2 separate regions of the Homo sapiens genome follow, and region 2 is linked to region 1. The links come from fine-mapping of genetic effects on gene expression. Tissue or cell type: whole blood. Region 1 holds a variant in brackets; the other region holds the start of a gene. All regions are shown on one strand. Distances are between the middles of the regions.

Region 1 (4,158 bases):
GATCCGCCTGCCTCAGCCTCCCAAAGTGCTGGGATTACGGGTGTGAGACACCACGCCTGGCTACAAAAGATATTTTTAAATTAGCTTGGCACGGTGGAGCACAAATGTAGTCCCAGCTACGGGAGAGGCTGAGGTGGGAGGTTCGCTTGAACCCAGGAGGTCAAGGCTGCAGTCGGCCATGGTCACACCACTGCACTACAGTCTGGGTGACAGAGTAAGACCTTGGTCTCAAAAAATATGTATATATTTTCTCTTCAACCTAAAAGTTTATTTTTTTCTGATTGTATAAGAAATTAAAACATTTTAGGCTGGGCGCAGTGGCTCACGCCTGTAATCCTAGCACTTTGGGAGGCCGAGGCAGGTGGATCACCTGAGGTCAGGAGTTCAAGACCAGCCCAACCAATATGGTGAAACCCCATCTCTACTAAAAATACAAAAATTAGCCTGGTGTGGTGGCGTGCGCCTGGAGTCCAAGGTACACGGGAGGCTAAGACAGAAGAATCGCTTGAACCCAGGAGACGGAGGTTGCAGTGAGCTGAGATAGTGCCACTGCACTCCAGCCTGTGCAACAGAGCAAGAGTCCATCTCAAAAAAAAAAGAAAGAAAGAAAAGAAATTAAAACATTTTGGTGTCATGGGCCTGAGGCATCATGCCTGCTGAGCCTGGTGGTGCACACAGCTTCCCACGGGGCTCCTGCTATTGGGAGACTTTGGTCCTGACATCCCTGAGACCCCTACTGTGTCCTCTGCTGTCCTCCTCCCAAAGAACAAACAGATCAACACCCCGGCAATATCCATTTTAACTCTTGCTTCCCTCTCTGCCGAGCCCTCCCCAGCAGCACACAGAGGGACTGGGAAGACCCTCAGTTACTGGTGGGGTGTGGGAAACACAGAGGTTTCAGCAACAGATAGATAATGTCCAGTCCCGGCTCTGTCACCTACAAGCTAAGTGGCCATGACAGGTTGCTTCAAGCCTCGTTTCTGCATCTGTGAAAGGGAGCTAACAGCACCTTCGTCCCAGGGTGGTTGTGAGAATTTTTTTAAATTTTATTTTATTTTATTTTATTTTATTTTATTTTATTTTATTTTTGAGACAGAGTCTTGCTCTGTCACCCAGGCTGGAGTGCAGTGGCGCGATCTTGGCTCACTGCAAGCTCCTCCTCCCGGGTTCACGCCATTCTCCTGCCTCAGCCTCCCAAGTGGCTGGGACTACAGGTGCCCGCCACCATGCCCGACTAATTTTTTTGTATTTTTAGTAGAGACGGGGTTTCACCGTGTTAGCCAGGATGGTCTCGATCTCCTGACCTCGTGATCTACCCGCCTCGGCCTCCCACAGGGCTGGGATTACAGGTGTGAGCCACTGTGCCCAGCCTTAATTTTAATTTAAAAAGTTAACCTATGGGCTGGGTGCGATGGCTGACACCTGTAATCCCAGCTACTCAGGAGGCTGAGGCAGGAGAATTGCTTGAAACTGGGAGGCGGAGGTTGCAGTGAGCCGAGATGATGCCATTGCATTCCAGCCTGGGCGACAGAGCAAGACTCCGACCCAAAATAAATAAATAAATTATATATATGACCATCAGGTCTCCAGGATGTTTAGGCTGCCTGAGGGGGGGTCCCCTGCTCCTGCAGCTCTGATGAGCTGACCGTCCCTCCTTCAGGGGACTTCCACAGAGCTCTCGCCTCATCCAGCCCAGGGATCTTCCTGTTTAACTTGATGGCCGGGTCCGGGGCCCCTCTCTACACAGCAGCCACTGGCCATGCCTGGCCACCCATCCCCAGCTAGTGTCCCTCCAGGACCACCCAGGTCCCCTGGAGCTCTGGGGTCATCCCATCTCACCTGAAATCAGGGTGGGGCCTTGAAGGAGGAAGGAATTTGGAGA[C/T]TTAGCAGGGAGTGGGCCAAAGCCACCGAGCTTTCTCCCTTTCTCCACTCCTGCCCCCACAGTCTTTCCACCAACCACTGGTTCTTTGTAAGATGTAAATGACAACATTCCACTCTCCTGCTTTAAACCCTCCAGGTTTCTCCTTGCACTTACAGCGAAATCCAAACTCCCCTCTCAGCTAACCAGCCCCACACGATCGGGTCTGGTCCACCTCTTAGCCCCGTCTCACGCCACCTGCCCCCTGGCCACACTGACATCTCTATCCCTTGAATTCACCAGGCTCATTCTAGTCTCATGCCTTATGTCCTTGCTGTTCCTTCCACCTGGAATTCTTCCTCAGCTCTTGGCTGGATTGAGCTCCTTATCATGTCAGTTTTAACTCAAAAGAGGGATGGATGGACAATCGGATGGATGGATGGGTGCTGTGATACTATTATTACATAAAATAGGTTTTGCCCATGGTTTCTAACTCATAACTCTCACAGCATTTGTTAGTCTTTTGTTATAATGTTGGGGTGCTTTAGGCCTCAGGAACAGGCCTCAGAAAACAGAATCAATCTCTGACCTTTGGCTGTCCTTCCTTCACCTGCTCCTTTCTCTCCTCAAGGTAGGAATCTCCCCCTGCCTTTCTTTCTTAGAACAGAAATTCTGGCCAGGCACAGTGGCTCACACCTGTAGTCCCAGCACTTTGGGAGGTTGAGGCGGGCGAATCACTTGAGGTCAGGAGTTCGAGACCAGCCTGGCCAACATGGCGAAACCCTGTCTTTACTAAAAATACAAAATAATTAGCAGGGCGCGGTGATGCGCACCTGTAATCCCAGCTACTCAGGAGGCTGAGGCAGGAGAATCGCTTGAACCTGGGAGGCTGCAGCGAGCCAAGATCACGCCATTGCACTCCAGCCTGGGTGACAAGAATGAGACTCCATCTCAAAAAAAAAAAAAAAACACAGAAATTCTTCCGTAAAGAAATTCCCTGGCAGGGCGCGTTGGCTCACGCCTGTAATCCCAGCACTTTGGGAGGCCGAGGCAGGCGGATCACCTGAGGTTGGGAGTTCGAAACCAGCCTGACCAACAAGGAGAAACCCCATCTCTACTAAAAATATAAAATTAGCCAGGCGTAGTGGTGCATGCTTGTAATCCCAGCTGCTCGGGAAGCTGAGGCAGGAGAATTTCTGGAACCCAGGAGGCAGAGATTGCAGTGAGCCGAGATCGCACCATTGCACTCCAGCCTGGGCAACAAGAGCAAAACTCCATCTCAAAAAAAAAAAAAAAAAAAAAAAAGAAATTCCCTGACCTACCTTGTCATAAGACCCTCATTTCAGAAGGGGTCCTGCTCCATCCCTTGGAGTAAGAAATGCTGCACAGAGAGGCCAAGAAGAATCTGAACAGACGGGCCTTGCGGGGGTTCCACACTTCGTCTAGTAATATTAGATCAGATCCTTTTTGCCCATTCACAGTTCTACACAGAGGTCAATCATGCCGGCATAATAAAGTCCCCATAAAAGGCCCCAGGGGATTGGGTTTGGGCAGCTTCTGAGATAGCTGAACACATGGCTGTCCTGAAGGATGGTGCTCCCAGGTGGGAGGGGAAGCTCTGCATCTCTTCCCCATAACCCGCCCTAAACATCTCTTCATCTGTATGTTTTATAACATCCTTTATAATAGACCAGTACACACAAATGTTTCCCTGACTTCTGTGAGCCACTCTAACAAATTAACTGAACCCAAAGAGGGGTCGTGGGATCCCCAACTTGAAGTCCAGAGGCTCAGACTTGCAACTGGTGTGGAGGGAGAGGGGAGTCAGGGAGAGGGAGCTCAGGAGTTCGAGACCAGCCTGGCCAACATGGTGAAATCCTGTCTCTACTAAAAATACAAAAATTAGCCAAGCGTGGTGGCACACACCTGTAAGCCCAGCTACTCTGGAAGCTGAGAAAGGAGAATTGCTTGAATCCAGGAGGTTGCAGTGAGCCGAGATTGTGCCACTGTACTCCAGCCTGGGTGACAGAGTGAAACTCTGCCTCAAAAAAGGAGAAAAAAGAGGCCTGGCGTGGTGGCCCACACCTGTAATCCCAGCACTTTGGGAGGTTGAGGTGGGTGGCTTACCTGAGGTCAGGAGCTCGAGACCAGCCTGGCCAACACAGAGAAACCCCGTCTCTACTAAAAATACAAAAATTAGCTGGGCGTGGTGGTGCGCACCTGTAATCCCAGCTACTCGGGAGGCTGAGGCAGGAGAATCACTTGAACCTGGGAGGCAGAGGCTGCAGTGAGCCGAGATC
Region 2 (4,158 bases), 90 kb after region 1:
TTGGGCATCTGGAGGAAGGTGCCCCTGAGAGGCAGGGTGGGTGTGTTGGCCTGGCTTCCAGATGTGAGTCACTCCTGGTCCGCATCTTCGTCCCTCTTTGGTGCCAGCAGTTTCAGAAGGGGGACGGCCAGGTGGAGAAGGAGGTCCCCGTGACAACCCCCCAGCATGCCCCTCATTTTGCCCAGTGCTCCCCACGCCCCTTCCTCCACCAGGTTCCTGAGTGTAAGGTGAGCACCCCTCCCACCCACCCTCAATTCTCTGCCACAGTGATCTTCCCTAGAGCCCAAATCTGGCCTCAGTACTCACCCTCCCTCTAGCCCTGGCTCCCCAGCCTCCTCCCATACAACAATGTCCAAGCCCTGTGCCCAGCCCATGAGGCCCTCCATGGTCCAGGTCCTGTTGGCTTCCCAGCCTCATCCCCGTTTTTCCCCCACATGCCCGGAACACTGTTCTCCAGCCCTGGCCTTCTCATTCTGGAGCTTCTGCCCATGGTGGAAAGCCAGGCACTTCTCCGCCTACCCTTCACGACCCACCTCCTTTACTCATGCAGCCGCCAGCCCACCATAGCACTTTCTCATGGCTTCCCTTACAGCCATCATCATCTACTTCTTTTTATTTTTATTTTTATTTTTTATTTTTTTTAATTGAGACTGAGTTTCACTCTTATTGCCCAGGCTGGAGTGCAATAGACTGATCTCGGATCACTGCAACCTCTGCCTCCTGGGTTCAAGCGATTCTCCTGCCTCAGCCTCAGGAGTAGCAGGGATTACAGGCATATGCCACCATGCCCAGCTAATTTTGTATTTTTAGTAGAGATGGGGTTTCTCCGTGTTGGTCAGGCTAGTCTCGAACTCCTAACCTTAGGTGATCCGCCCGCCTCGGCTTCCTAAAGAGCTGGGATTACCGGCGTGAGCCACTGCGCCCAGCCCATCATCTACTTCTTAACGTGGTTGTGGTCAGATTCCACCCCAACTATGCGCTCCTTGAGAGTGGGGACTGGGAGGGGTTCAGCTTTGAATCCTCAGAGCCCAGGGCCAGGTACATAGTAGGTGCTCAGTAAAATACCTGCTGAACACTCAGGGAAGGGAGGGCTGTGCCGGGCCTCAGAGGAGATGTTAAGAGAGCAGACAGGGTGGCCAGGCATGGTGGCTCACACCTGTAATCCCATTACTTTGGGAGGCTGAGGCGGGTGGATCAACTGAGGTCAGGAGTTTGAGACCAGCCTGGCCAACGTGGTGAAACCCCGTCTCTACTAAAAGTACATAAATTAGCCGGGTGTGGTGGTGGGGGCCTGTAGTCCCAGCTACTCGGGAGGCTGAGGCAGGAGAATCAGTTGAACCTGGGAGGCAGAGGTTGCAGTGAGCTGAGATCACGCCACTGCACTCCAGCCTGGGCGACAGAGCGAGACTCCATCTCAAAAATAAATATATAAATAAATAAAAATAAAAAAGAGAAAGGACAGGGTGCACAGAGCCAGGACCCCACCCCCTCCTGGTCTGGACCACCCTGGGCCATCTCCTAAGCTTGACACTCTCAGGCCTGAGGCTGTCAGGCCAGGGCGCTTTGACTATCCCCTGCCTGCCCCTGAACGCGGCCAAGCCCGAGGCCTTAGCCAAGCCCTGCAGCCTCAGGCTTGGCGCCCGGCCCAGCCTTTCTTTAGCCTTCCCGAGGAGCCAGCGAGAGAGCGCTGCAGCAGCCGCAGTCCTTGCTTCCGGGGAAGGCCCGGGTGGGGCCAGGGCCTGTGGTTAAGTCAGTGGCCCTCTGCAGACGCGCACGCAGCAGGAGCCACGCCCTGGTCCCTGCCCGGGAGTGGCCTGGTCTCCCCCAGCTCTGATTCCCTGAAGGACCCTGCACCTCCTCAGCCATCTTCTCTGGGCACCCCCTGAGCCCAGCCTGCTGGCCACAGGCCCCTTCCCGCCAACTTGTGGGCCTAGCTCATCATCAAACTATTTTCCACTGGCTTCCCCCAATCTCTGCCACAGCACAATTTTGGTGGGGAGGTGGAGAGGGATGAAGGAGAATAGGAGGTGGAGCTTGGACTCTGGCCGGGGGCGGCGGGGTGAGGGGGGGCAGCAGCTCGCCACTCTGATTGGTCACCTCTGCTCCAAAACTGGCTTCAAAATTCCACGGACTCCGCCCCCAGTGGCCCCCAGCCCTATCCTGACTTGCAATTGGCTGAACTTTCAGGGGGCGGGGCTCACCCGGTCCGGTCCAGTTAAAAGGGTGGGAGCGTCCGGGGGCCCATCTCTCTCGGGTGGAGTCTTCTGACAGCTGGTGCGCCTGCCCGGGAACATCCTCCTGGACTCAATCATGGCTTGTGTGAGTGTGGGGACCCCCCCCCAAGGTCCAGGGGATAGGGCAGGAACTGATGGCCAGAGGAGAGCTGGGCAGATCGGGAGCAGATTCTAGCCCCAGCTGTGTGGCCTGGAACCAGTGCCTTCTCTTTTCTGGACCTCAGTGGCCACATCTGTAAAATGGGGGTGGGCGCCATGGTCCCTCAAGGCCTTCTCTGCATTGATAATTGTCTGGATTCCTCCAGGGTCTGAAAGCACAGTTATTTCTGCCCAGGGTTGACATTCTGCAGCTCTCTGAGAAGTGAGCGTGGGAAGGGTGTGGCCAACTGGGGGACACCCAGGCCACTATCCCTTTCCCCCTCCTCCACCCCAAAGAGCCTCCTGTCCCCTCCCCCCTGCAGCTGTCCCGGTCACCAGGCCAGGGCAGAGTTACCCTCTGCTCCAGAGAACGCTGAAAAGTTGCCAGGACCCGAGACAAGCTGCCCAGGATGGGCCCTTCTAGGTCGGGGGTGGAGGGTGGTTGTGTCCAGGCTGGTGGCGGGGGGGGCGGGGGAAATTCCCTTCCACCACCCCCAAGCTGGGAGGTTGGGGTGGCAGGGAGGTGAGAATCTTCCTCGGGCCCCAGGGAAAGGGTTCAAGTTTCTGGCAGAAGAAACCACTCAAACCAGTTAACTCTTGCCCACCCACTCGGGGTGCCAGGGAACAGCAGTGCCCAGCAGTTTGCTCAATCTTGTTAACCCTGAGCCAGCCCAGCCACAGCCCGACTGCAGGGCTATTCTCCCTAATGCAGAGAGGCCGTGTTTTTCAGGGTCTCCTCTCTAGCCCCTGGGCCTCTTTGCAGAGAGGGGCTTGAAGGAGAATAGTGGGGTCGCCCGCCCCTAGCCACTTCCTCTCCAGCAGAGGGGCCGGCCCCTCCATTCAGTGTGACGGTGGGCCAAGTGTCGGCCCCTCCCCAGCCTGATCCTCTCCATCTGCGATGGGACAGAGCACCCCATCTCCCAAGTCACTCTTGAGTCCAAAATTCCCAAGCCAATCTGCAAAATCTTCTAGAGCCTGTCTTCTAGAACCTTCACGTTACAGACTGAAGCCAACCCCGGTGGGAATAGGGACTTTCCCAGGACCACATAGACAATCGGAGGCTGGAAATTACAGCTCAATCCTTTCCCCAGGCTTCCCCTTGGCTTGGTCAGAGGATGCCGGGCGGGAACAACCCCACTCCCACCCCCAGCCACCCCCGGACACTTCGAGCAGTGGAGGCCTTGTCCTCTAACCCGGCTGGGCCGGGGCTTGTCTGTGCAGGGTCTGGTCGCCAGCAACCTGAATCTCAAACCTGGAGAGTGCCTTCGAGTGCGAGGCGAGGTGGCTCCTGACGCTAAGAGGTGAGAAGTGAAGTCGGGGTGGTGGGCGGCAGGGACGGGCTTGGTCCAGCAGGGAGGGCGTGGCCGGCCAAGCCCACATCTCCTCCCTGGCCGGGAGCGGGTTAACGGCCAGCCGCCGATGCTGCGTTTTCTGGGTGACTCACTTCCCCCGCAGGGTCTGGGCGCCCCCACCGTTGCCGCCCCCTCCCCCGCTCCCTCCCTGCTGTAGCCTCTTAAACTAAACCAGCTGCAGCCTCGTCATCTGTAATACCTTGACTCCCCCGCCCCCACCCCTTTCCGGTCTGGGCGGGACCTGTCGCTGGGGAGGGCGGGGAGAGGAGTGGGGCGGGCGTCACCGCCGCCTTCCCCCTGAGTCCCTCCTTCCTGCGTCTGGTCATTCATTCATTCACTGGCTCAGTCCGGTCCTTCTTCCTTCACTTCTCATTCACTCAGACGGCTGCCTTATTTTCTCGGCAGTTAGGTGACCTTGGACCAGTCAACCAACC

The links. PIP is the estimated chance that this variant, and not a neighbour inherited with it, causes the effect.
Region 2: LGALS1 starts here. The variant in region 1 is fine-mapped to the expression of LGALS1 in whole blood (TOPMed, PIP 0.96).

What each region holds. Positions count from the first base shown.
Region 1 is chr22:37,583,637-37,587,794 of GRCh38, forward strand. No RefSeq gene overlaps it. Among named protein-coding and RNA genes, the nearest start is that of LGALS2, 5.6 kb to the left of the region's middle. The variant C/T (reference allele first, on the strand shown) is at 1,883.
Region 2 is chr22:37,673,393-37,677,550 of GRCh38, forward strand. It overlaps LGALS1 (galectin 1), which reads left to right and starts at 2,244. Exons shown (of 4, transcript NM_002305.4): 1 at 2,244-2,319; 2 at 3,594-3,673. The coding sequence starts at 2,311. RefSeq lists silencers at 2,047-2,186, 3,707-4,158 and an enhancer at 4,060-4,158.